Linked DNA regions of Homo sapiens. The protein of the gene in region 1 purifies or fractionates together with the protein of each later gene. This does not show direct contact. Each region holds a gene or a part of one and is shown in the gene's direction. Other genes may lie near its edges.

The links.
Region 2: the proteins of GPR107 (region 1) and ECHDC1 purify together in Homo sapiens (co-immunoprecipitation; one large-scale study listed by IntAct). This does not show direct contact.
Region 3: the proteins of GPR107 (region 1) and ARFRP1 purify together in Homo sapiens (affinity purification with mass spectrometry; one large-scale study listed by BioGRID and IntAct). This does not show direct contact.
Region 4: the proteins of GPR107 (region 1) and SCFD1 purify together in Homo sapiens (affinity purification with mass spectrometry; one large-scale study listed by BioGRID and IntAct). This does not show direct contact.
Region 5: the proteins of GPR107 (region 1) and PIGG purify together in Homo sapiens (co-immunoprecipitation; one large-scale study listed by IntAct). This does not show direct contact.
Region 6: the proteins of GPR107 (region 1) and KIAA0930 purify together in Homo sapiens (co-immunoprecipitation; one large-scale study listed by IntAct). This does not show direct contact.
Region 7: the proteins of GPR107 (region 1) and TVP23C purify together in Homo sapiens (affinity purification with mass spectrometry, with the first as the bait; one large-scale study listed by BioGRID). This does not show direct contact.

Annotation. Positions count from the first base shown.
Region 1 is NC_000009.12:130,137,285-130,140,664, forward strand, and holds the end of GPR107 (protein GPR107 isoform 3 precursor), read left to right. Parts: 3' UTR 1-2,880; downstream 2,881-3,380. UniProt on the Homo sapiens protein: Has been proposed to act as a receptor for neuronostatin, a peptide derived from the somatostatin/SST precursor.
Region 2 is NC_000006.12:127,333,610-127,337,109, reverse strand, and holds part of ECHDC1 (ethylmalonyl-CoA decarboxylase), read left to right. Parts: intron 1-3,500. UniProt on the Homo sapiens protein: Decarboxylates ethylmalonyl-CoA, a potentially toxic metabolite, to form butyryl-CoA, suggesting it might be involved in metabolite proofreading. Acts preferentially on (S)-ethylmalonyl-CoA but also has some activity on the (R)-isomer.
Region 3 is NC_000020.11:63,698,147-63,701,561, reverse strand, and holds the end of ARFRP1 (ADP-ribosylation factor-related protein 1), read left to right. Parts: intron 1-859; coding exon 860-960; coding exon of another isoform or gene 961-964; exon of another isoform or gene 965-1,031; coding exon 1,032-1,119; 3' UTR 1,120-2,915; downstream 2,916-3,415. Other genes in the region: TNFRSF6B (tumor necrosis factor receptor superfamily member 6B precursor), read right to left, coding at 2,999-3,282. UniProt on the Homo sapiens protein: Trans-Golgi-associated GTPase that regulates protein sorting. Controls the targeting of ARL1 and its effector to the trans-Golgi. Required for the lipidation of chylomicrons in the intestine and required for VLDL lipidation in the liver.
Region 4 is NC_000014.9:30,628,819-30,632,318, forward strand, and holds part of SCFD1 (sec1 family domain-containing protein 1), read left to right. Parts: intron 1-1,658; coding exon 1,659-1,747; intron 1,748-3,500. UniProt on the Homo sapiens protein: Plays a role in SNARE-pin assembly and Golgi-to-ER retrograde transport via its interaction with COG4. Involved in vesicular transport between the endoplasmic reticulum and the Golgi.
Region 5 is NC_000004.12:523,210-526,709, forward strand, and holds part of PIGG (GPI ethanolamine phosphate transferase 2, catalytic subunit), read left to right. Parts: intron 1-249; coding exon 250-704; intron 705-1,961; coding exon of another isoform or gene 1,962-2,029; exon of another isoform or gene 2,030-2,595; intron 2,596-3,500.
Region 6 is NC_000022.11:45,230,895-45,234,394, reverse strand, and holds part of KIAA0930 (uncharacterized protein KIAA0930), read left to right. Parts: intron 1-3,500.
Region 7 is NC_000017.11:15,553,484-15,556,983, reverse strand, and holds part of TVP23C (Golgi apparatus membrane protein TVP23 homolog C), read left to right. Parts: intron 1-1,619; coding exon 1,620-1,702; intron 1,703-3,154; coding exon 3,155-3,299; intron 3,300-3,500. Other genes in the region: TVP23C-CDRT4 (uncharacterized protein LOC100533496), read left to right, coding at 1,620-1,702, 3,155-3,299.

The DNA of each region.
Region 1 (3,380 bases):
TGGACAAGCGCTGGAGCCGCAGCCCTCAGACTGGCACGGGAACGCCAGCGTTGGGTGTTCAGATTCCACGCGTATGTCTGGGCTCACTCACAGCATGGCCGAGTGTCTGCAGTGCTGGTCCTGACCCTTCCAGAGCAGCAGTGGACAGATGAGATAAGACTGTTTCAGAAACAAAGATGGCCACAGCCTTCCTAACAAGCAGGTCATCTGGCCATGTCTGTATTGTAACTGGTAAAAGGCTTCAAGTCAGATTGATGATCAAGAAAAGTCAAAACCCCAGCCCAAGATTGGGAAAGCAGGTGGTGGTTCCAAGCTTTTAAAAAATTATTGAAGCTCTCCATCCTGTTCTGTGAGTGTGTCTTCTCTTTCTCCTTCACGTCATAGCCGTGACCCACCGTTCATCTCTGCTCTTGCGTAAAGATGACCGATGGAGTCCAAAGCCAAGTGGCTTCACCAGCTGACAAGCCACCCTCCTGCAGCCTGAGTTTCACAGTCCACTGGGTTCGTTGTCATGCGGTGTTTGAATGGTTAAGCCCTTGCAGTATTTCAGATCGGGCAAAAAATATCGGATGCACATAGCAGAACCATTGGTGGTATTTATAGCTTTGCTTTGTACTCCTCACTGTTTCTGCCTACGCAAAATATCCATGTTTCCTCTGAGAAATCTGTTGTGGACTGAAAGCGCTGCTGGCTGTGAAATTTAATAAAGTGTGTATGCTTTGCTAGAAAATTATTTCTTGGACAATAGGAACAGTCATTGATCTGTAAATCCTGGCTCTTAACAGTGAGTGGCCAAGGACTTGATCAGCCCATTTCTTGGTCCCTCAGTGCTTTAAAATTTAAGTAGCACTGCATTTTGTAATGTTGAATATGACTCTAGTGACTTGTAGGAGGCACTTGTGAGGAGATGCTTGCTTCAGTGTAAAAGATGCTCATGGCCTGAGTCAGTTGAGTTTTCTTTCAAGAAACCACTTCAGAGTGAAATATCCAGGGTTTCCCCGCCCTGGACATGTCCAGCCTGCCCAGGCAGCACACAGCCCTGTAAGTCCACCTCGTGTGGGTGAGATTTCCTCCTGCGTGATGACCTCATCGCCATCTCTGCTGTCTCATTCCACAGCCTCCCTCCCTCTTCTCTCCTCCTCTGCCCTCGCCCTTCCCCCTTCCCCATCCCCTCCCCCTCCTCCTCTGCCCTCGCCCTTACCCCTCCCCCTTCCCCTTCCGCTCCTCCTCCCTCCTCCACCTCTTTCTCCTCCTCCTTCCCTCCTCCTCCCTCCTCTTCCCTTCTCTGCCATCTTTCTCCCCGTGCCTATTGATCCCACATAGGCTCATTCTGGGTACACCGGCTAAAGGCTTTGGTGCATTGCAGCGTTTTCTCCCAGCAGCTGTGTGAAAGATGCATTTTCTAAGCTAAGGAGAATTTTCTCAAGAGTGGCATACTCATGCCAAATATTATTGCTCTGGGCCATATAGGCTGGTCTTCCTCCACACTAAAATGGGTGTCTTGTTTTGGTACTTAAAACAGTCTACTCCAGGCATCCAGTCCTTACAGACCAAGGAAGAGCATAGCGATGCCTGTTGGAATTGCAGATGCATTCTGGCCTTCTCCCCCGTCCTGAAACATTTTCTTTGAGGAAGGCTCTTAGAACATTAGATAGTCTGCTGAGGTTGTTGGCCCAGCTCCATACACCCAGTAGAACAGTGGAACAACTCATGCTTCATGCTGCCAAGCTGCTGTACTTCAAAGGAAACAGATCTAGCACACTGCTGCACCCCTGCTTCCACACTCCACACTTCACCCCGCTGCTTTTCTCTGACCCGCCCCTGGCCTTGTAAGACTCACGTAAGCTAAGTCCAGGATGCCTGTGGCCTGCGGCTTGATTCTTCCCTTTAGGATTCAGCAAGTTAATGGCTTCCTCGCTATAGAAGTGAGACTTTGACTTGATGCCTCTTGGTATATCAAAAAGATATTCATCCAGAAAGTACCAAATGTTCTGAAAGACCCGCTCTTCACTCCAGTTTTCCCTAGGGTGTTTCTGGCAGGGCGTTTTTAAAAGGCATCTACCTGAGTTGACGCTAATACTTGTCACCACCTGGAACGTAGTTATCGGTCGGCAGGCTGAACATACTCCAGATTCCCCAGAGGCCACTTCTGTAGCCCAGCGATGCATCTGAGCCTCTCTGCGTGGTTTATGCTTGAAAAATAGATAATGCTTTTAGATGGTTCACTGCCAGGCCATGGGCCCCACACATCTCAGGCCCTGTGTGAGGGAGCACACTGAGATGGTGCAGGAGTGAATGGGCATGGCTTGGCCTCGCTACCTCGGGGACCTGTTGGAGTTCTGGCAGCAGGGTGTCTGCAGGTGGGACGGCGTTCTGGGCAGAGTCAGAATGGTCAGAATGAAACAGAACAGCCAACTCACCCACAGGACAGCTTATTTTGAGGCAAGGTTTTGGATTTTGGAGGAAGCAGCCAGATGAGGCGGTGAGCCTCCAGAAGGTCAGCCTTTGGAGCACGTAAGATACTGTTACAGGGTCCAGAAATCGTGTTCACATGGGGGCTTTGACTCTTCAAACAGCTTTTGCAGATCGTAAATTGCATTTGCCTAGTCGTGTGACCTCAAAAGAAGTCAGACATATTTAATCCAGAAATAGTTTCGTTTGAGGGAGGGCTTGCAGGTCTGTAAATAGCATTTGCTTTCCTGGTTAGAGATTGGGATGCAGAAGGAGTTTTCAGTATTTTTTTTAAAACACTAATGATCATTGAAGAGTATTTATGTAAACATACAACGTATAATGGGTGGGGGATCCGATCATGGTGATGTACGGGGTGAATTCTCTTGCCGTGTTGCAAATGTGTAAAATAAAGATTATCTGGCAGAACCGTGTGTGTTTGAGATGCAGGGAGTTGCCGGCTCCTGGTGCTGTCTCTCCTCCACCTCCATCTCATAATTTTTTTCTTTGTGATTTTTGTTCATTAAATTAGTTAACTGCCTCCCACCAGCTCCTACTGACAATAGTGACACCTACTAGAGAAGTTCCAGGCATCTTAGCCGATCTGTGGCAGCGCAATTAAGACCCAGATAACTGAAAACCGGTTGTAGGTTACTGCTGTCCTGCTTACGCTGGAGGCGGGCGATGTCTTGTGAACCAGTGTCGGGGCACTGCTGCCATTTGAGGGGAGATGGCAGGCCTGGCGCAGAGCCCGCACTGTGACAGGCGCAAATGCACCTTCTGCATCGGTTAGCAATAGCTCTGGGTTACCCCATGTTGGAAGCAGAGAAATCCAGGATTTTAGACTCAAAGCATTTTTAGAAGTCATTCAGTTCCAAAGCCCATATTTTACTAAGAATGTTTTAAACTGAGGCATATTTTACCTACAG
Region 2 (3,500 bases), on another chromosome or scaffold:
CAGAGTCAGATTGAAAAGTAAGTCACAATATACAGGGTTAAATAAAACCCATCTGATGAGAATTTATGGTTTGTAGGGCATGACTCCCCAGACCCCTTAGGTGGGAATTTGGGCAAGATTAAAAAATCAGAGCTTAGTCCTCAGTGTGGTTAACCAATTTGTTTCAAGCCCCATTGCTTGGCATTTCTCAATAAAGTCTGAAATTTTTAGTTTAAGTTGCTTCCACTAGCTAAGAGATTTTGAGGCAACTTGATATTTACATTTGAGTGATAACTTAGAAAGTGTCTAAAATCCTTGGTGTTTTTTTCATAACCACTTCACACTTTGTAATTGGTAACATTTTATTTGTAAAACTTTTCCCCGCTTCCATTTTCCGTAGACTTGAATTTTCTATGCTTATCACTTTATTTCTCCTTCAGGGTAAAATATTTAAAAATACAGTTCTGTGTGCCTTAGAGCAAGAAAACTCTCAACCACAGAATTTGTCCTTGCCCAGGAAAGTTTTGCTTTCCAGTTAAAGAGAGAGTTTATTTGACCAGGATAGCTCATTTTCCAATAATGGTAGATAACTAATGGTAATAATTTCAGAAATACTTCCTTTCCATAGACAGAACTTTTACTTCCCTTTGGGAAAGCAGGGAAATAGGTCTTTGAACCAGACTGCAGTTTTGGGTAATGGAGCTATATAAGGGAAAGAGATAAGTTAAATATGGGGAATAATATTCAGTGAATGAAAATAATATTTGCAGGAACATTATTTCAAGTGAATCATTTGTTTAAAATTAAATAATCTATTATTTAAGTATATGGCAGTAATTTTTGGCATTTAAAAATTTTATTTAGTTTCACAGTATCCTCTCATTCTTCTACATGCCCGGTAATTTTATGTAGTACTGGTAAAGTACCTATTATTGCACTAAATTAGGTGGTGAGAACATCTGTGATATAAACTTTCATTCTGCCTTTATTGTGTCACTAAACATTTCCATGTTCTAATTAGATTCTTTTATTTTGAAGTTTATTTTAAAAATCTTGCAGGGTACCTTGAATTAACTGAAAATATCCTAGAATGTTGCAAAATCATGTTTGATCATTGTTCCCTCTAGCTTTCTAGTTCTTCAGGAGGCCTTAGATACCTTAAAATCTGTTAATACCATAGAATCAGTTAATACCGTATCATTTTCTAATTTGACAGAACAGGTGATGGGATGGAAGGATGTCTCATAAGTTATACTGTATGAGTTTTGGAAAAGGAGTATGGAATTGCCAATAGATGAAGACATTAAAGTATTGAAAATACTAAATATTTAGATATTTTGCAACTTGTAACATTTGACCACTTTCCTTATTAGTTGCTTATTAGTTTTGTATATCACATTGACCCAAACCTTATTAATCACAATTCATTAAGTAGGTCACCCAGTGCTTTCATTATTCTTTATTCGGTAACCATAGCTGCTGGCAACTGGTGACTTTTTTGGTGGGAGGGAGGGAGGATACAAAGAAAGACGATAACAGATTTGAAATTAAGGGAAAGAATAAAGTTATGACAGTTAAAAGCAGGTCCTATCAAAGATTTATGATGGCAAGTTAGAACATCTTTTTTTTCTTGGAAAAATAACATCAAGTTTTTATTCTTAGATACCATTTTTTAAGATGACAAGCACCCCGCTACTTTTTTTGTCACACTCTAAAATATAATGCATTAGGTCACAATTTATCTGAGTTACACTTCAGTCTCCTTGAGGAGATTTAAGAAAGGTCTTGGTATCTTCAATATTGTAGTTATAAGCCACCTTAGTTGGTAAAGTTTTGAAATACTGTTCTCAAGTTTTTGAAATATATGTGTTTGAGGGGATTACATCCCACTGTGTGTTCAGGTAAGTATTCATTGGAAACACTTTGGTAAAAATGTCACTTGAAGGCCATGTGACTTAAAGTGGAAACCAGATATTGTATTGTAACCTTTATATGTTCTCTGTCAGTTTCTGATACCATTTTATAACTCACATATTAGATATATTTTTAAAGCTATAAAACAAGTTTGTGGCATTCCTTTTGGCTGCGTGATGAGTTATTTTTTTTACTTGCCTACATTCTCCCTCATTAACTATTAAGTAAGTACCTTTTATGTATTAAGTACTGTAGCCACTAGTGACACAAAGTATGTACCTCAGAATACTCTCAGGAAGCATCCTTCCAACTGAGAAAAACAAATGAAAAATTGAAATGATTTGAGGAATGTGTTAAAATGGAACATTATTGCAGTATACTGAGCTGGGATAAATAAAGGGAGTGATTATCTTTACTTGGGGAATCACTTTTAGGTGGAAATATAGAAATTCAGTTTTTAAAAATGATTGGGGATTTACCAGGTTAATGAGGGAGGAAAGAACAATATAGGGGAGAAGCAATAATATAAAATAGCATGGTAAATTTGTGGGACTCTGGTTATTTGGTGTTCTGTATTGATTGTGTAGAGATATCAGACGAGAAGAGATTCAGGATTTAGGTAAGAATTTAAAAAAAGCTTTGGACTTGATCCTTTTGGTAGACAGCTACTGAGAAACCTTAAATTTGAAATGTCCTGATTGGATTATAATCATATCCACATTACTCTAAAGAACAGTATGCTACTAACTGGTGACTGTTGTATTAATTCAGATTATATGTAATGAAGTTTGAACTGTATTAGTAATAGGAGAGGGAAAGATCAGAAGGAAGTAACCATTTTGGAGGGCCATTGCATACGGACCTCCAAATAGTGGTGGAGAAGGAGACTGGGTTGATTTAGAGGTTTTCTGGCATAGATTACAGGGTTGATGATACAATGAATAGTTCAGGGAAAGAAGGAGTAATGGGTTTTACGTGAAGTATGAGTTCAGGATTAAATAATGATTTTGAGAAGCCTATGATAAATCTAGAAATGAGGGGTAAGGGATTGCATTTCTGTTAGGCAATACTAAGGAGTACAGGCATAAGGTCTGAATTAGAGATAGAAATGTGAGATTCATGTCTTGTAGGTTTTAGGAAAGTTGTGAGCAGAAGAATAAAAGATCTCTAACAAATTAATAAAAAGGCAAATAAATAGAAATAATGGGCAAAAAGCTTGCACAGGAACTTCACAAAAGATGATATGCAAATGACCAATAAGCATAAGAAAATGGGGTTTATCTTCGTTAGACATTATAGAAACACAAAATGAAACCACAGTAAGATACCATCCACTAGAATGCCTAAAATAGAAAAAACAAAGAAGAAGTGATACTTGTGGAGCAACTGGAGCTTTCACTGCCTGTGGGAATATACATTTGTACAGCTATTTTAAAAAACTGACAGTATATTCTAAGGTTGAGCAAATGCATACATTATAACTGGTGGTATACTGGTAAACTGTGTGTGTGTGTGTGTGTGTGTGTGTGTGTGTGTGTGTGTGTGTGTGTAAGAGAAAGAGAGTATGATTGATATGTCATGTAGTCCCACCATGGTCAATTTCAAGC
Region 3 (3,415 bases), on another chromosome or scaffold:
GCCGTGTCTCAGGAGTGTGTGGCCAAGCTGTGGGGACACCCAGGTGAAACTCAGAGCTCAAAGAAGTGATGCTGGGGCCCTGGTGGGAGTCAGCTCTGACCCTTACCTGTTCCTGCTACCCTTGGAGGTGGCATCTGTGCCAGCCCCACCCCCAGGGCAGCCCCTCAAGACCCCTCTGAGGTGCCACTGCCCCCGGGAGCACTGGCCACGCTGAGTTCTAGCTGTTCTCTTGGAGTGGCTTTGCACAGAAGCAGCCCGGCGTCCAGAGGGCCAGGTGAATCTTCACTTCCTGCCTTCTCTGGGGTGGCTCTGTTGCCCCCAGCCTGTAAGGCTGGCCTCCCCTACAATCTCAGCCGACAAGAGGGACATCTGGTACGGGGCAGGGGTCTCCCCTCGGAGGAAAAGGGGAGGGGAGGGCTGCTTTTTGAAGACTGGGCAGGTGGTTGTGAGCAGAAGCCACCATGACTGCAGACTGCCTCCATCACTGATGCAGGGCTCCCACCTCTCCATCATCCCCGGCTGTGTGGGCCCCTGGGACCTGCCTCCGCCACTGCCCAGGAGGCCTCAGTCCTCAGCGCCCCACCTCGGGGCTCAGGGTGTCCCCCAGGGAGGGGATGGGGGGTGGACTCCTTGGAGCCGTGTGGACGTCTAGTTTGTCTCAGGCACTACCAGCCATGTTCAGCCTCGGGCTGAGCACAGGGTCCTCACTGCTGTGGTCTCTGTGGGAGACACTGGGACCCTGGTGGAGCTCTGGCTGTTTCCCTGGGGTGAAGGGCATACGCCCTTCTGAGAGTCCCGGGCCCACAGGCAGGACAGGGCCAGACGTGGGGGCTGCTCCTCACGGCCTTACCTCCCCCAGACGTGCCTCTCAATCCCTGACATCAAGACGGCCTTCAGCGACTGCACCAGCAAGATCGGCAGGCGAGATTGCCTGACCCAGGCCTGCTCGGCCCTCACAGGGTGAGTGGGGGCTGCACCTGCGGGGGCTTTGGGGACCGAGACCCCCCGCCTCACACCCGCTGTCTTCACAGCAAAGGGGTGCGCGAGGGCATCGAGTGGATGGTGAAGTGTGTCGTGCGGAATGTGCACCGGCCGCCGCGGCAGAGGGACATCACGTAGGCGCAGCCGCGCTGCCGTCGGGACGGCTGGTCCCCTGGTGCTGGAGGAGTGGCCTCCTGTTGGCTCCCATGCTGCTGATCTGGGGGGTGGGTTTGCTTTGCTTTGGGGTTCTTCTATTTACTTTGTTTTCTCGAAGACAAACTTTCCTCTATGTCTGGAAAAGCGTAGGCATCCGGAGGCTTTGGAGGGGAGTCTGGCAGCCCGGCTGGCCCAGGCCCTGCAGCGGCAGCCTTTCCACAGGGCGCAGCGGCGGCCTTTCGAGGCCCTTTCTGGGGGGTCTGAGGGAGACCTGGTTGGGAATTGGGGCTCCAGTGCTCAGGCTGGCTTGGGCTGCATGAGGACAGCCCTGTGGGACCCTCGGGAGACCCCGTGGCTGTCTCCGCCCCATCGAGGAGGAGGCCCGTCAGCCATGGCTGCCATCTGGCTTCTGCCCTGTGACCCCGTGACCCCGTGACCCCGGAAGTGGTCTGGGGCTGATCTTGCCTTGAGGAAGACCCAGGCCATGTTCCCAAAGGCCAGCGGGGGCCCTGGATTGTGATGCAGCCTCGGGACAGGGCTGAGGCCTGCGGGGGAAGACCTATACCCCACGCCTGGGCCTGGCTTCACCTCACCCTAATCCCCCGGGAGGGAGCTGACTGATGCAAAAAGCTGAGGGGGCCTGCTGGGAGTGGCTGTTTTTATGCCCCAGCCCCGCAAGTTGGGGAGTGTTTGTGGGGGTCCAGAGCCCTCCCCCAGCCAGGAGAGAACCTCCCGGAGGGGTTCTCTGTGGGGCCCTGTGTCCCCTGCTCGGGAGTAAGGCTGGTCCTGGGGTCCTCCCTGCACGGACCCCACTGGGCCTGCCGAGTGCTGTGTTCTTCCTCAGTCTGGCTGTGGGCAGGAGCGGCCTGCCCAGTGTCACCCAGGGTGAGTGCAAAATAAAGACGGCGAGTGTGGCTCTGTCCATCCCTTCCCTCCTGGAGGGTGGAGGCTCCTGGCTGTTGGACACGGTGATGGTGTTACTGGGCTGCTCAGGGGCTGGTGGGCAGGTGAGGGGCTCCCCAGGTGGGCCTGGAGAGTCCAGGCACTCCCTTCCTGCGGATGTGGGAAGGACATGGGGTCCTGGGAGGAGCTGCTGGGAAGGGGCATGAGTCAGGGTGGGGGTGGCGCAGCAGCTGCGGGGCTGTGACTCACAGGAGTCGGGCCCTGGAAGTCCCCGCGTCCTCTCCAGGGGACCCTGTGTGTGTTCTGCAGGTTGGTTCCCAGGACCTGGGGGGGACCTCCAGCCCCGGGAACCTGGCCGTGCTGGGGAGGCGAGTGGCTGGTGCAGCCCCCCGGTTGCTCTGGGTGCATCGGGAGGCTTCAGAGCCTGCCCCAGAGAGGGAGAAGCTTCACTTCCCGGAAAGCATGGGAGGCCTGGAGGAGGTCTTTGGCAGGTCCCCTCTCGGGAAATCCCCTGTGAGTTGGGAGTGGGAGGAATTCATAAGTGGGGGGTTAGTGTGGGCCCCGGCGACTAGGGCTGGCCTGAGCCCCATCCTGTTCTTCCAGCAATGATACCCTCCCAGGCCCTGACCCTCGCTGAGCTTCAGGGGCCCCTGCCACGTGCCACAGCCACTGGGGGCAGAGGTGGCACTCCCCACTGATCCTCCCAGGGAGGGTCTGTCTGAGGTAGGGGAAGCCCCGGGCAGCAGTTCTGATGGCAGGCAGCCTGAGGGATCTGGGCACAGCGGGCGGCTCAGGTGTCCCCGGCTGCCCTCCCAGTAGCTGTGCAACTACAACCAGTTTTATGAAAAAGCTTTATAAAAATAAGCTTTAAGAAACCTCATTTCTTCTATTTAAAAAAAAGCCTCTTTCAGTGCAAGTGGGGTGCCAAGGATGTAGAATAAATAAGAGGGGGCCAGGATCAGTGCACAGGGAGGAAGCGCTCACGGACGCTCCGCTCCAGCCCGGGCATCCTGGCCACGCGCAGCGCCTGCAGCAGCCGCACCAGCAGCGCCCCGTCCTGCGCCCCCAGGAGCTCCGTGAGCCGCCGACGCAGCTTCAGCTGCAAGGCCGCGCGGCCCGCCCTTGGTGTCGGACCCCAGCCCTCCGGGGCCTCGAGGGCCTGCAGCAGCCGCTGCAGCCTCTTGATGGAGATGTCCTGGAAAGCCACAAAGTCGATGACGGCACGCTCACACTCCTCAGCTCCTGCAGTGGGGTGGGGAGGCAGCGGTCCGATCATTTCACCCACACACACTGGCGGGGGCTGCCAGGTACCCTGCTTTCTGGGCCCCACTCGGGGGGTTTGCAGGAGAGAGAAATCCCTGTGCAGTGAGCCGTG
Region 4 (3,500 bases), on another chromosome or scaffold:
TGTTATAATACAGTTGATTGGGTTTAAACTTACTGGTTAACAGTCTCTTTATATTTCTCTCTTGCTAAAAATTAAGAACAAATCAACATGTTTAGAATTTAGGGTGTTTTGAAAACTCTCTTGAGTCTTTATAAGTCCTTTGGGTTAACTCTAAAAGTAGTTAAAGTTGTCTGTATTGATTTCATAGTTTAAGCTCCAGAGTATTCCCTAATTTTCTCCTTCTTGTTCCTTTGTGGGCATCTTCCTATTGCCTCTTGCATAAACTATACTTGCTTGTTTCTAAGACCAATATTGAGCTTTTGGTTGAAATAGTTTGAGAATTTCTTGGGTACAAATTTTTGTCAGATACTTTTCCTACCCATCACTTTTTATATCATTAAAATTAATAATACACATGTATTGAGATTAAAAGAGGGAAGATTTTTGAAAGATGCAACGTGAACCTTTTATAACTAGAGCAGAAAGATTTTTAGCCTCTTTAAAGGAAATCCTGGCATTTAAGAAAATGTGTTTTCATAACAACATGTTTCATTCTCTCATTAACAATTTCTTACTCCATAAATAATTATTGAGGTAGTTGTGAAAAATGCTTACCAGTTGAGGATCTCTTTTATTTGTCTTAACCGTGAAACTAATTTTGAGTTAAAAAGCCCATTTGGAGTTCTTACCACACCTCAAAGCTGTCTGTTTTAATACTTTGAGAATGTGAGGAAGTGTATTTGATAGACTAAGTCTATCAAATACTCTTTAGGGACTTAATTTTTTTTTTTTTTTTTTTGAGATGGAATCTCGCTTTGTCGCCAGGCTGGAATGTAGTGGCGCAATCTCAGCTCACTGCAGCCTCCGCCTCCCAAGTTCAAGTGATTCTCCTTCCTCAGCCTTCAGAGTAGCTGGGATTACAGGCACGTGCCACCACACCCAGCTAATTTTTGTATTTTTAGTAGAGAAAGGGTTTCACCATGTTGGCCAGGATGGTCTCTATCTCTTGACCTAGTGATCCGCCCACCTCGGCCTCCAAAAGTGCTGAGATTACAGGCGTGAGCCACTGTGCCACAGCCAGGGACTTAATTTTTTTTAATGAGTATCTTTTTAACCTGAGATGCTTAAAATACTAAATTTTTTATTGTGGTCCTGGAACTTGTTATATATTAGTTTTGAAAATGGCTAATTTTTACATCTCTGTTTTTAGAAAAGATATATGTGAACTGGAAAAAAAATAAGGGTATGAACGTGAATTGGCTTTAAGTTCAAAGTTTATGATAGCTTAAGGATTTTATAGTCTCTATTTTTTTAAAACCTAGAAAAAAGAATTTTATAAGAAGAAATTGATATAATTATTTATTTTAGCCTGAGTAGTAATGCTTTAAGAACGTATTACTGCCTGGATGGACATTTGGGTAAATAATGATGGAAAATATTAAATTGAGGCAAGGATAACAATTCAGTATATATGATGTATTAAAATTTACTTCAACATTGTCTTAATATAGGTTCACTATTGGTTGTTCACTGATAATGATGGAAAATGTTAAATTGAGGCAAGGATAACAATTCAGTATATATGATGTATTAAAATAAAATTTACTTCAACATTGTCTTAATATAGGTTCACTATTGGTTGTTCACTGATAATGATGACACATGGTTTTTTTTAATAGGTACTCATTTATGACAGATTTGGCCAAGATATAATCTCTCCTCTGCTATCTGTGAAGGAGCTAAGAGACATGGGAATCACTCTGCATCTGTGAGTTTTTACATATTTCTAATAGTGGTATTCATTTAAAGAACATTTATAGAGAAAAATAGTGTTAGGTTACAGTATTTATGTAGTATTGAACATTTTTTCCCTGTATCTTCTTTATTCAACCCCTTATTTCTGGGATTTAAAAAAATCCTCAGTCTGAGGCTTTATAATTTCAGAATTTAAATTTTCTGCCTTGTGGCTTTTCCTTAGATTTGGTTTACCCTCTATGTAAAGGAAAAGAACTAGTAATCTTAAGGTCTCTTCCAGCTCTAAAAGTGTTTTGTTCCTTTAATTTAAATACACAGATTCTCCTTGACCTACAATGGGGTTACATACTTATAAACCCATCATAAGTTGAAATTTTGTAAGTCAAAAAAATGCATTTAATACACCTAACCTACCAAACATCATAGCTTAGCCTCTCCTACCCTCAGCATGCTCAGAATACTTACATTGGCCTACAGTTGGGCAGAGTCAGATCTAACACATAGCCTCCTTTATAATAAAACCGGGCACGGTGGCTCACGCCTGTAATCCCAGTACTTTGGGAGGCCAAGGCGGGCAAATCACAAGGTCAGGAGTTCGAGACCAGCCTGGTCACGTGGTGAAACGCCATCTTCACTAAAAAAAATACAGAAAATTAGCCAGGCATGGTGGCAGGCACCTGTAATCCCAGCTACTTGAGGCTGAGGCAGGAGAATCACTTGAACCCGGGAGGCAGAGGTTGCAGTGAGCCGAGACTGTGCCACTGCACTCCAGCCTGGGCAAAAGAGCAAGACTCTGTCTCAAAATTTAAAAAAAATTAATTAATTAAAATAAAAATAAACTGTTGAATATCTCACGTAATTTATTGACTGCAGTGCTGAAAGTTGAAAACAGAATGTTTTTATAGGTGCTTAAAATATGATTTCTATTGAATATGCACTGCTTTTGCACCATCATAAAGTCAAAAAATCCTAAGTTGAACCATTGTAAGTCAGGGAGTGTCTATATTTTTTTAAAAAAAAGGAATATCTAATTAATCATTAATATGAAAAATTTAAGTGACTATGAAGTAATGACTGTTAATCACCATAGTGGGCTATCTGTGTTGTCTTAACTGTTAAGTTTGTGTGATTATATTGCTTCTGATATGTTTAATAAAAATAAAACAAATGCAGTACTTTATGGGCTTGCCTAGTAGAACATTTGGAGAAGGGGCCAGGCACAGTGGCTCATGCCAGTAATCCTAGCACTTCTGGAGGCCCGGGTGGGCGGATCACTTGAGGTCAGGAGTTCGAGACCAGCCTGGCCAACATGGTGAAACCCCGTCTCTACTAAAAGTACAAAAATTAGCTGGGCATGGTGGCGTACCCACCTGTAATCCTAGCTACTTGGGAGGCTGAGGAAGGACAATTGCTTGAACCCAGGAGGCAGAGGTTGTAGTGAACCGAGATCGTGACACTACACTCTGGCCTGGGCAGCAGAGCAAGATTCTGTTGAAAAAAAAAAAAAAAAAAAAAAAAAGAACGTTTGGAGAAGGACTGTGTTCATGGATAGATACTAATACTTCTGTATACTAAAAGAGTCCAATTTTATGGTGTTCTAAGCTATTTGCATTTTGTTCTATTTATGATGTTATAACCAATTTTTATGATATCATATATTGAATTGAAATGTACTCTTACTGGGAATATAGTTTTAGATTTTCGATAAGTAACTTGACAGAATCTGGTTTAATCAGCTCAAATTCTTCAGTTGTATAATGAGCATT
Region 5 (3,500 bases), on another chromosome or scaffold:
TGGCCGTGCAGTGTCCGGCTCCCCTGCCTGGGCTGAGGGCGTCTCCACTCCTGCAGGCTGCGTCCCAAGAGGAAGGTTCCTGCCGTTGGAGCAGAAGGGGGCTGTTCCAGAGTAGGGGCCCAGGTGCTGGGTGTGAGGAACAATGGTGTGTGTCCAGGGCATTCTCTGCTGTGAGCAAGGACTTGACATGCAGCAAGATGTGTGTCGTTATCAGACCGTCTCTTACAAAGTGCACTTTCCTTTTCACAGAACCCCATGCATCCCAGCTCAAGGTGGTCAGAGCTAGACCTTCTTATTCTGTTGGGGACGGCGGGCCACGTCTTGAGCCTGGGCGCCAGCAGCTTCGTGGAGGAGGAGCACCAGACCTGGTACTTCCTTGTGAACACCCTGTGTCTAGCTCTGAGCCAAGAAACCTACAGAAACTACTTTCTGGGAGATGACGGTGAGCCTCCGTGTGGCCTCTGTGTGGAACAAGGGCATGACGGGGCCACAGCAGCGTGGCAGGACGGGCCTGGCTGTGATGTCCTGGAGCGAGACAAAGGCCACGGAAGCCCCTCTACCTCCGAAGTGCTCAGAGGCCGCGAGAAGTGGATGGTGCTGGCCAGTCCGTGGCTAATACTGGCCTGCTGCCGGCTGCTGCGCTCCCTAAACCAGACAGGTGTGCAGTGGGCTCACCGGCCTGACCTCGGCCACTGGCTCACCAGGTGAGAGCGTAGGCCCGTGGCCACAGGCCAGACTTTCTACGGCCGATTGGTCACCTGCCAAGCTCTTCTTTTTCTAAATTGAGACCATTTTTCATATTAAGAATGGGATAGTATTTGAGATCTGAAGAATTGGGAAAATACACTAAAACCAGTGTTTTACTGGATACTAGAATCAATGTTGAGAAGTGAATTTATTTGGGGGCTAGCCTAACAGGTTTCATTTATTAGTGCTGAACCACTGTAACTGTTCATGATTGAAAACTTGTGTTTCAGTGATCATTATATAGTAAAGATGCTATGTGGGGGTCAAGCTTGCTAGTGGCTTGTTCTGGACGCCTCGTCCATGCCTGGGCTGTGTGCCCCCCGCCCATCACTCAGTGTCTGCCTGTGTCAGGCCATTCGTGTGTTGCTATAAAGAAACACCTGAGGCCGGGTCACATGTAAGGAAAGAGGTTCATCTTGGCTCTCAGCTCTGCGGGCTGCACAGGAGGCATGGTGTCGGCATCTGCTCCTGGAGAGGCCTCAGGAAACTGGCGGTCATGGCGAGGGCAAAGCAGGAGCCAGCACTTCACGTGGCGAGAGCAGGAGAAAGAGAGGGATGAGGAGGGTGTCCGGCACTTTTAAACATCAGCTCTCTTGTGAACAGCCACAGCGAGAATGCGCTCATTACTGCGAAGATGGCACCAAGCCATTCGTGAGGAATCTGCCCCCATGACCCAGACGTCTCCCACAAGGCTCACTTCCAACACTGGAGGTTCAGTGTCTTTTTTTTTTTTCTGAAACGGAGTTTCACTCTGTCACCCATGCTGGAGTGCAGTGGCACGATCTTGGCTTACTGCAATCAAGAGATTCTCCTGTCTCAGCCCCCTGAGTAGCTGGGATTACAGGCGCCCGCTACCATGCCTGGCTAATTTTTGTGTTTTTAGTGGAGATGGGGTGTCACCATGTTGGCTGGGCTGGCCTTGAACTCCTGACCTCAAGTGATCCACCCACCTCGGCCTCCCAAAGTGCTGGGATTACAGGCGTGAGCCACTGTGCCCAGCCTGAAGGTCCAAGTTCAATATGAGATTTGCAGTGGACAAACATCTAAGCCATGTCATTCCCCCAGACCCCTATCCTGCTGCTGATGATCCCCAGGGCAGCAAGAAGGACGGGGTCAGCCAGGCAAGGCAGGCGCAGCCTCTGTGGGCCAGCTTTGCCCTTAGCAAAGCTCCTTTCTCCTCCCCATCCTCCCTTTTCTCTCTCCTCATCCTGAAGGGACAGAGCCGTGTGGGGGAATTCAGCCACCTCCTGAGCCTTTCATTGGCGACTGGAAAACCACCTAGAAAGTATAGCAAATCATTTCAAGCAAGGCTCGAAATAAGTAGAAGAAACCAGGACAGAAAAATAACTAAGATTTGCCGAGACTTAAATTTTAATTGTCTGGCAGTGAAGACTTAGGAAACTAAAGCAAAAGAAGCAGCACAATGAGAGCATCTGCGGCGAGAGTAACAGCAAGGGTTGCGGTCCCGTCACTGCAGAGAACTCCTGTAAGAAATGGCAGCAGAAGGAAAAGGGAAATGCCTAGTCCTAGTAATGAGGGCACTTCCAGTTAAATGACAGGGTGTGACTTCATACCTGCTGAGGCAGAGAAGCAGAATTGAATGACGAGACTCAGTCTTGGTGAGCACGTGAGGATTCCTGGGGCCACGTTAGTGGCACAGTTCTTTTGGAAGATACTTGTAAGTTTACATCAGAAGCTGCGAAATTACAGATTCTTCTGATTAAGTAATTCTTGTGGGAGGCTAAGCATTAACTAAATTACGAAAACCTCGGTTAGCCAAGTCATCGCAGATGGGTCCTTCTATCTGCCTGCTGTGTGCCTGCACGTTTCCTTTCCAGAGAAGCCCCGGAGAGGGGACTTTGGTTGGTCCCCACTCCAGAGGTGAGGAAGCGGAGGGGGGACGGGCTGCTGGGAGGTTGTGCGGGGCACGCCAGCATCGGGGTGGGATCCCAGGCATGTAGAGCAGCCGGGTGTGTCAGGGAGCTCCGTGTCCCGGAATAGCACTTTGACACCTTGTTTCTTACTTTCCTGGAAAATTAAAGCATTAGGAAAGAATTGGCTGGCTTTCCGCCCCACATGCAAGAGCCACCCCCAACCGCATTATCCGCGGTTTTCCTTACGCGAGGTCAACCATAGTCTGAAAATATGACAGTTATTTTGAGGCAGCCCACATTCATATAATTTCTATGACAGTAACAATTATATTGTTATAAATGTTCTATTTTATTATTATAACAATCCTGAAGATTGTGTAAAAACGCGTGCCATTTAAAAAGCAACAATACACAGACACCCAGGTACCCCTTCCCGGGGTGAGGCCCAGGCCCCCGTGTGGCCCCAGTCTCCCCGTCATCCTGGGAGGCTTTGAAGCGGGAGCTGCAGTGAAAGAAACAGAAGGGAGCCCGGCCTTCCCCACCCTCACACAGGCCAGGACTGGCTGGTGCTGCACCACCGCATCGCGGTCGGGACTCCGGGCTCTGCCCTCTGACAGGCCGTCAACCTCTGCACCATCTCCTCACCCAGGAGCGGGTGACAGCAGACCCTGTGAGGCCATGTGGGTCTAGGGACGTATCATGCGTTACTGAGTTAATGGGAGGAGGCAGGAGAGGGGAGGTGAGCTGGTAGGTGCAGGGCTGACCCCGAGAGGGTACCAGGGAACAAGAGGACGGTTTCTATTTGTCACCGCCTGGCCTCTGGGCATCCACATCTGATGGTGGGAGACCCGTTTGTGAATGAGAAGTGAGAGTTCAAGT
Region 6 (3,500 bases), on another chromosome or scaffold:
TTGCCAGTCTGTGATCCTCCAACCTTGTCTTCTTACCTGAGAGCTCTCCCCCTGGCGTTTCAGGCTTGTCTTCCCCGAGCAGGAAGCAGAGGCCCCCTCTTCCCCATCGGAGGACCATGAGGCCTGGGAGCTGAGCCCTGAGCACAGGCCAGGCCAGCTCCCCAACGGCACCCACACGCACACTGACCTTCCACTCCTGGTCACCCCTCACTGCAGGCCACCCCAGCTTGCCGGGCCTCAGAGACAACAGAGACGTTTGCCCCTCAGGGTCAGTACATGTGCCCGGCCTCTGCCAAGGCCCCCGGGTCTCAGAATTCAACCAGCCTCTCCCTGTCACTGCTGTAGACAGGAGCTCTGCAAGCCCCAGTCCAGGCTCTCCCGCTAAGGGTTCTGTGGGATTGGGGAAGCCCTGGTGCATAGCTGCAGCTCCTGTGCAGCCCCAGCCCCGCTCTTCTGTCTTCTGGAGGCCCTTGTCCCTCTGGACCTCTGATCCCTCCTGCATGCGGTGCTGGGCTAGGCAGGGCCAAGCGGGACTTGTAAACAATACGTCATCTAATATCATAACCCCTGTCAGGTAGGAGTTAGCCCGTGTCTTACAGGGATGAAGCAGAGGCTCAGAGGGTTGAGTAGACCTTCCCTCGGTCATTTCCAGCAGCTTGGGTCTGGTGCACTCAGCTTCCTAAGAGGGCAGAGCTCACTGCCTATCACCCAAACCCGGCTGTCCTGCCCACCCTCCCAGCGTCCTGAGAGCAGCCACCAGGTCCCCTGGTGAGTCAGCCTAGTGAAGGTCCTGCCACCCGGGTGGGCACCCGGGCTGTTCTGCAGCTGAAGTAGAAGCGTGTTTTGACTGGATGTGATTTCCCACTTTCCAGGTGATGCCCGCCTCTGGGCCTTTATGGCTGTGGCTGCTGTGCTGAGGGGAGCTTTCCCACCCAGGCCTACCGACTCCTTGGAAGTGGGGCTGCATGCCCTGCGTGGCCTGTGCTGGGGAACTCGGCCTAGCACCTGTGCTTACCCGTTCCACTTGAACCTCAGCCTCCACTCCTTAGAACACCTCGCCTGCCTCAGTCTGCCCACCCTGTACCACACCGTGTCCAGAGCACAGAACCCTGGGGAACTTTAAAACAAAATGCCCATTCCTTCCCCCGACCTGGGCATCTGAGTGAAAGTCCTCCTGGGGGGCCCTGGAGTCTGTGGTGTAATTCATTCGTTCCCTCTGTCTGGGTGTGTCAGCCTGAGTTGGTGGCCACTGGGCTGTCTGTTTACCACCCCTGCCCCCATGTGATAGATGGGGCCACTGAGGCTCAGAAGCAGGAGGGACTGGCTGTGATGCCTTCCTCCACCTTCCTGATCTGGCCTGCTCCCAGCCACCTGTCCTTGGATCCACCTGAGCCCCAACAGCATGAACCTTAATGTCATCGACATTGACACCTGGCGGGGGTGGGTGGGAAAATTAACACTCCACGGGGTCCCTTCCTCACCCCCAGAGATACCTGTGCCCCTGAGTCAAAGCCGAACTCTGCACATCAGGGAAACGGAGGCTGAGGTCACATACAGAGCCCTGGCTCAGCCCCACCACATGGAGAGGCGGTGGGCCAGCCTCCCCTGGAGCCGGTCCCCACCCAGCCCACTCTGCAGGATGGGCATTCTCCTGGGAGAAGATGTGACTCCAGGCTTCCTGTGCCTGATGAGCTCTACCCTCCCAAGGTAGGGGGGCAGTTTGCTCCCAGTGTCCCAGTTTCGGCTGAGGCAGCAGAATGCCCTCTGGGTCACAGCCCGTCCTGGGGGAGCTGGGATGGAGAGAGTCCCAGAATTCAACCAGCCTAGCCCTATCACTGACACAGACAGGGGAGACTCAGAGTGGACCCCGACTGTCTCAAACAGGGTGAAGAATCAGGAGGGCTGGCTGCCTGATCTCACCAGTGCTGCCTCTTGCCCCGTGGTGCAAGTGAGGAGACCGAGGCAGGTGAACAACAGGCAGAGTTCCCTTACTCCACGTGTCCATTATCTTTAATGTAAAAGGGCTTTGTATTGGGATGTGCTTTGAATCTTGAAAAATGCTTTTCACACTTGGAGCAACACTTATGGCAGAGAAAGGGAGAAAAGCAGAATACAAATCCACATGTTATGAAGCGTGTGGATTATCCATGTAATTATAATAGAGAAGTGCTGCCCTGCACACCCTCGTGTGTCCTCACAGCAGTGCTGAGCAGAAGGCAGGAGGGGTGTTGTCCCATTTACAGAGGGGGACCAGGCCTCAGAGTGATAGGTGGACCTGGGGTGAGGTGGCCTTGGACTAGGCTTCTCCCTTCTGGTTCTTTCTGAAACCTTGCTTCATAGGCACCTTTCCAGCAACAACAGCCATTCAAGACCCTTGTGCCTGTTAATTTTGTTTGTTTGTTTTGAGAGGGAGTCTCGCTCTGTCACCCAGGCTGTAGTGCAGTGGCGCGATCTCGGCTCACTGCAAGCTCCGCCTCCCAGGTTCACGCCATTCTCCTGCCTCAGCCTCCCGAGTAGCTGGGACTACAGGCACCCGCCACCACACCAGCTAATTTTTCGTATTTTTAGTAGAGACGGGGTTTCACCATGTTAGGATGGTCTTGATCTCCTGACCTTGTGATCCACCTGCCTCGGCCTCCCAAAGTGCTGGGATTACAGGCATAAGCCACTGCGCCTGGTGTGCCTGTTAATTTCTTACCTTCTCTGCAGTTTTTACCCCTGTCTGAGTGTACATTTTTATGTATTTGTAGTCACCATTGTGTCATTTGTGGAGGTCATATATATTGAACCCTGGAAATGCAGTGCTGAATTAGGGTTGATCTGACTCTTGGGAGCTTGGCCCTCCCTGGGGAGGGGGTGGTGGCAGGCAGGTACAGGCTGATTGTTCATGCCTCTGGCTTCCCACCCCTGCCTCTGTATCCTGTTCACACACATCGCTGGGACAAGCCCAGACATCCCTCGGATCTTCAGGCCCCACTGCCAATGTAGGAGGTGAAAACTATCTTTCTTCCCATCTTAGGTTCATGGCTGAGGTTCCTATAACAAAAGGCAGAAGAGAGAAAAGTATAATTTAGTGTAAGTTTTACATGATACAGGAGCCTTCATAAGGAAGTGAAAATCCAAAGAAATGGGCTCAACCTGTGTATTTTCTTTCTTTTTTTTTTTTTTTTTCTGAGACGGAGTCTCAGATCTTGGCTCACTGCAACCTCTGCCTCCTGGGTTCAAGCGATTCTCCTGCCTCGGCTTCCTGAGTAGCTGGGATTATAGGCGGCCACCACCATGCCTGGCTGATTTTTATGTATTTTTAGTAGAGAGATGGGGTTTCACCATGTTGGTCAGGCTGGTCTTGAACTCCTGGCCTCAGGTGATCCATCTGCCTCAGTCTCCCAAAGTGCTGGGATTACAGGTATGTTGAGGCACCGTGCCCAGCCTCAACCTGTTTATTTTCTATGCTAGGTTTGATAAAGAAGTGGGTCATTGTGGAGGAGTCTGACTGGATA
Region 7 (3,500 bases), on another chromosome or scaffold:
AGTGCTCAACAGTGCTCAATGAAGACAGTGTCAGAAGCAAGTAGGGGGCATTAGATTCTGTGATCTTCTATGCTTTATGTGAAGGAGTTAAATTTTATCCTATACTTGTAGGGATGCCATTGAAAAATTTGAGCAGTAGAGTGACATGGTGTGATTTCCATATTGGGAGGATTGCTCTGGGTAATGTAAAGGAGAGGCTGGAATAGAGAGGGATAAAGGCAGGGAGGCTGGTGAGTGGCGCTAGGAGAGGAACAGGATCAGGTTTGTTGTAGTTGAGGGGAATTGCAGTGAATTGAGGTGTGAACCACTCTTAGAAGCCTAAGGTTATGGGGCCGGGCATGGTGGCTCACGCCTGTAATCCCAGCAATTGGGAGGCCGAGGCGGGTGGATCACAAGGTCATGAAATCTCCTGGTTAACACGGTGAAACCTGTCTCTACTAAAAAAATACAAAAAATTAGCCAGGCATGGTGGCACGCGCCTGTAGTCCCAGCTACTTGGGAAGGTGAGGCAGGAGAATCACTTGAACCCAGGAGGCAGAGGTTGCAGTGAGTTGAGGCCACGCCACTGCACTCCAGCCTGAGCGACAGAGCAAGACTCCATCTCAAAAAAAAAAAAAAAAGCCTAAGGTAAAAGGAAGCAATGCTTTGGGAAGGTAGAGGATTGAAGAGGAGATTCAGGATCAGGGTTCTTAAAAAAATCTTTTTTTGCCTAATAAGTGGCCTTGAAGAAGTTTATATGCATATGCTGATTAGAAAGATTCAATAGAGGCCAGGCGTGGTGGCTCAGGCCTGTAATCCCAGCACTTTGGGAGGCTGAGGCGGACAGATCACCTGAGGTCAGGAGTTCAAGACCAGCCTGGCCAACATGGTGAAACCCCGTCTCAACTAAAAATATGAAAATTAGCTGGGTGTGGTGGCACACGCCTGTAATCCCAGCAACTTGGAAGGCTGAAGCAGGAGAATCGTTTGAACCCGGGAGGCGGAGGTTGCAGTGAGCCAAGATCGTGCCATTGTACTCCAGCCTGGGTGATGAGCAAAACCCCATTTCAACAACAACAAAAAAGAAAGATCCAATAGATAGACTTGAAGATAGAAGAAAGTGTAAATACAGGGGAAAATGATGAAACAAATCCCCGAGGAGGCATGAAAAGAAGTTATTCTGAGCACAAATAATTGGTTTAGCCTTGGATAAGAAGAGGAGGAGTTGTGAGAAGGGGTCATGGAACTAAGGATGCAGTCAGATGATTTTGTGAAGGAGCCAGAAACCTTGAGATTATCCCCAGTAGCCTCGGCTTGCTCTGTGACTTGGGAGAGAACAGGTGAGGAGGACAGGTGTTAAGTTGTAGTAGCCTCATCTGCACCCCAGAGTTTTCTCAGATGGTGCAGCCTAGGGGCAGGGATGGAGGAGCTGAGACTTCGATTATTCTCTGGGGTTTTTGCCAGATGATTTGAGGAGGCGGGTGGAGGATCTGCATGTGTCCTTTTCTAGGTTTTGAATTCCTGATGCTGTAACCACATTATTTTATCTTCTATTTTGATGAGTATGCAGCTTTGCATTGCAGTGGCTGTGTAAACACTGAATTTTGTTTTGCTTCTTGACCATTTATTTTTCCAACCAGGATAGTAATGATGACACTGAAGATGTTTCACTGTTTGATGCGGAAGAGGAGACGACTAATAGACCAAGAAAAGCCAAAATCAGGTAGGAGGAGAAGTTGCATGAGCTGTGTTAGTGTCCAGTGTTGTTCTGTATGTATGTCAGTGCTAGCTGATGGGAGTCAAGGCAGAGTTGTTTCAATGTGCTTGTGAATACTGCATGTTGCTAATTTAACATTTAGTGTAAGACAAAGATGACATTTCAGATTTTCTTGTGAATAATTGGCATACTTAATACTGAGTTTTAAAATCAGCAAATCCAATTATTTGAACACCTGTGTTTTTAATTCTGTGCTATTTTCCAAGAATGTACCATTTCTTTATATAGTTTCTGTAGATACTTTACATTTTGATTTATTGTGCACATTTCAAAATCACATAACATTTCTATTCTAAATTTAATTCTCTCTAAATAAATTCACTTATCGAAAGCAAATTCTACTTGAACCCTGCTAAAATGCTGTTTTTTACTTTTCTTTCATCTTTCATGCCAGTCACAAAAGACCACATATTGTATGATTTCATTTATATGAAATGTCCAGAATAGGCAAATCTGTAGAGACAGAAGATAGATTAGCTGTTGCTAGAAGCTGAGGGGTTTGAAGGTAAATGGGGAATGACTGCCAGTGGGTGCAAAGATTCTGTCTGGGGTAATGAAAAGTTGTAAAATTGGAGTGATGGTTGTACAAATCTGTGAATGTACTAAAAACCATTAGATTGTTTACCTTAAATAAGTAAATTGTATGATATGTGAATTATATCTCAAAAAAGCTATTAAAAAACAAGAAACAGGCTGGGCGCGATGGCTCACGCCTGTAATCCCAGCACTTTGGGAGGCCGAGGCAGGTGGATCACGAGGTCAGGAGATTGAGATCATCCTGGCTAACATGGTGAAACCCCATCTCTACTAAAAATACAAAAAATTAGCCGGGCGTGGTGGCAGGCGCCTGTAGTCCCAGCTACTTGGGAGGCTGAGGCAGGACAATGGCGTGAACCCAGGAGGTGAAGTTTGCAGTGAGCCGAGATTGCGCCACCAAACTCCAGCCTGGGCGACGGAGCGAGACTCCGTCTCAAAAAAAAAAAAAAAAAAAGAAACAAACAAACTACCTGATAACTTTGTCTTAATGTCTGAGTGATTTCTGAGGGCTAAGGAATTCTTTTGGCGTGATTTGAAAATAGGATTCAAATTCTAAGATACGGTTTCCTTATTTCTCCAAGAGAGGTAAAATTCTTTATTATCTATTTTGTGAAAGTTTATATTCAATGAGGTGTTAAAGTCATCTGTGCATAGTGTATTTTCTGTCACTATAGGGCCTAGTCAAATAGTGGGGCTTAAGAAAAAGAGAGCTAGGAGGTTTGCTTCCTCCTACTAAAGTCACCTCTTTTATTTTGACAAAACTCTTCACAGTTACACGATGGCTAAAACATTTTTCTCTACATTTGCTAGTACCTGTAGTAAAATGTAATTGCATTTCTTTCATTGTGTTTTGGTTTTCAGACATCCAGTAGCATCGTTTTTCCACTTATTCTTTCGAGTCAGTGCAATCATCGTCTGTCTTCTCTGTGAGTTGCTCAGCAGCAGCTTTATTACCTGTATGGTTACAATTATCTTGTTGTTGTCGTGTGACTTTTGGGCAGTGAAGGTAATTTTGATTGTTTTTATTTTAAAATTATATTTAATATGAAAATGATGTATAAAAATATGACAGCATTTTGCATTATTGTTAATCTTTTGTTACTTCAAACCTCATCTGTGTTGAAGTGCTAGATATATCAAATTGCATGTAGTTTTTTTTTTTTTTTTTCATTTTTTCCCTTTGACAATACAAGATGAGACATGTAGG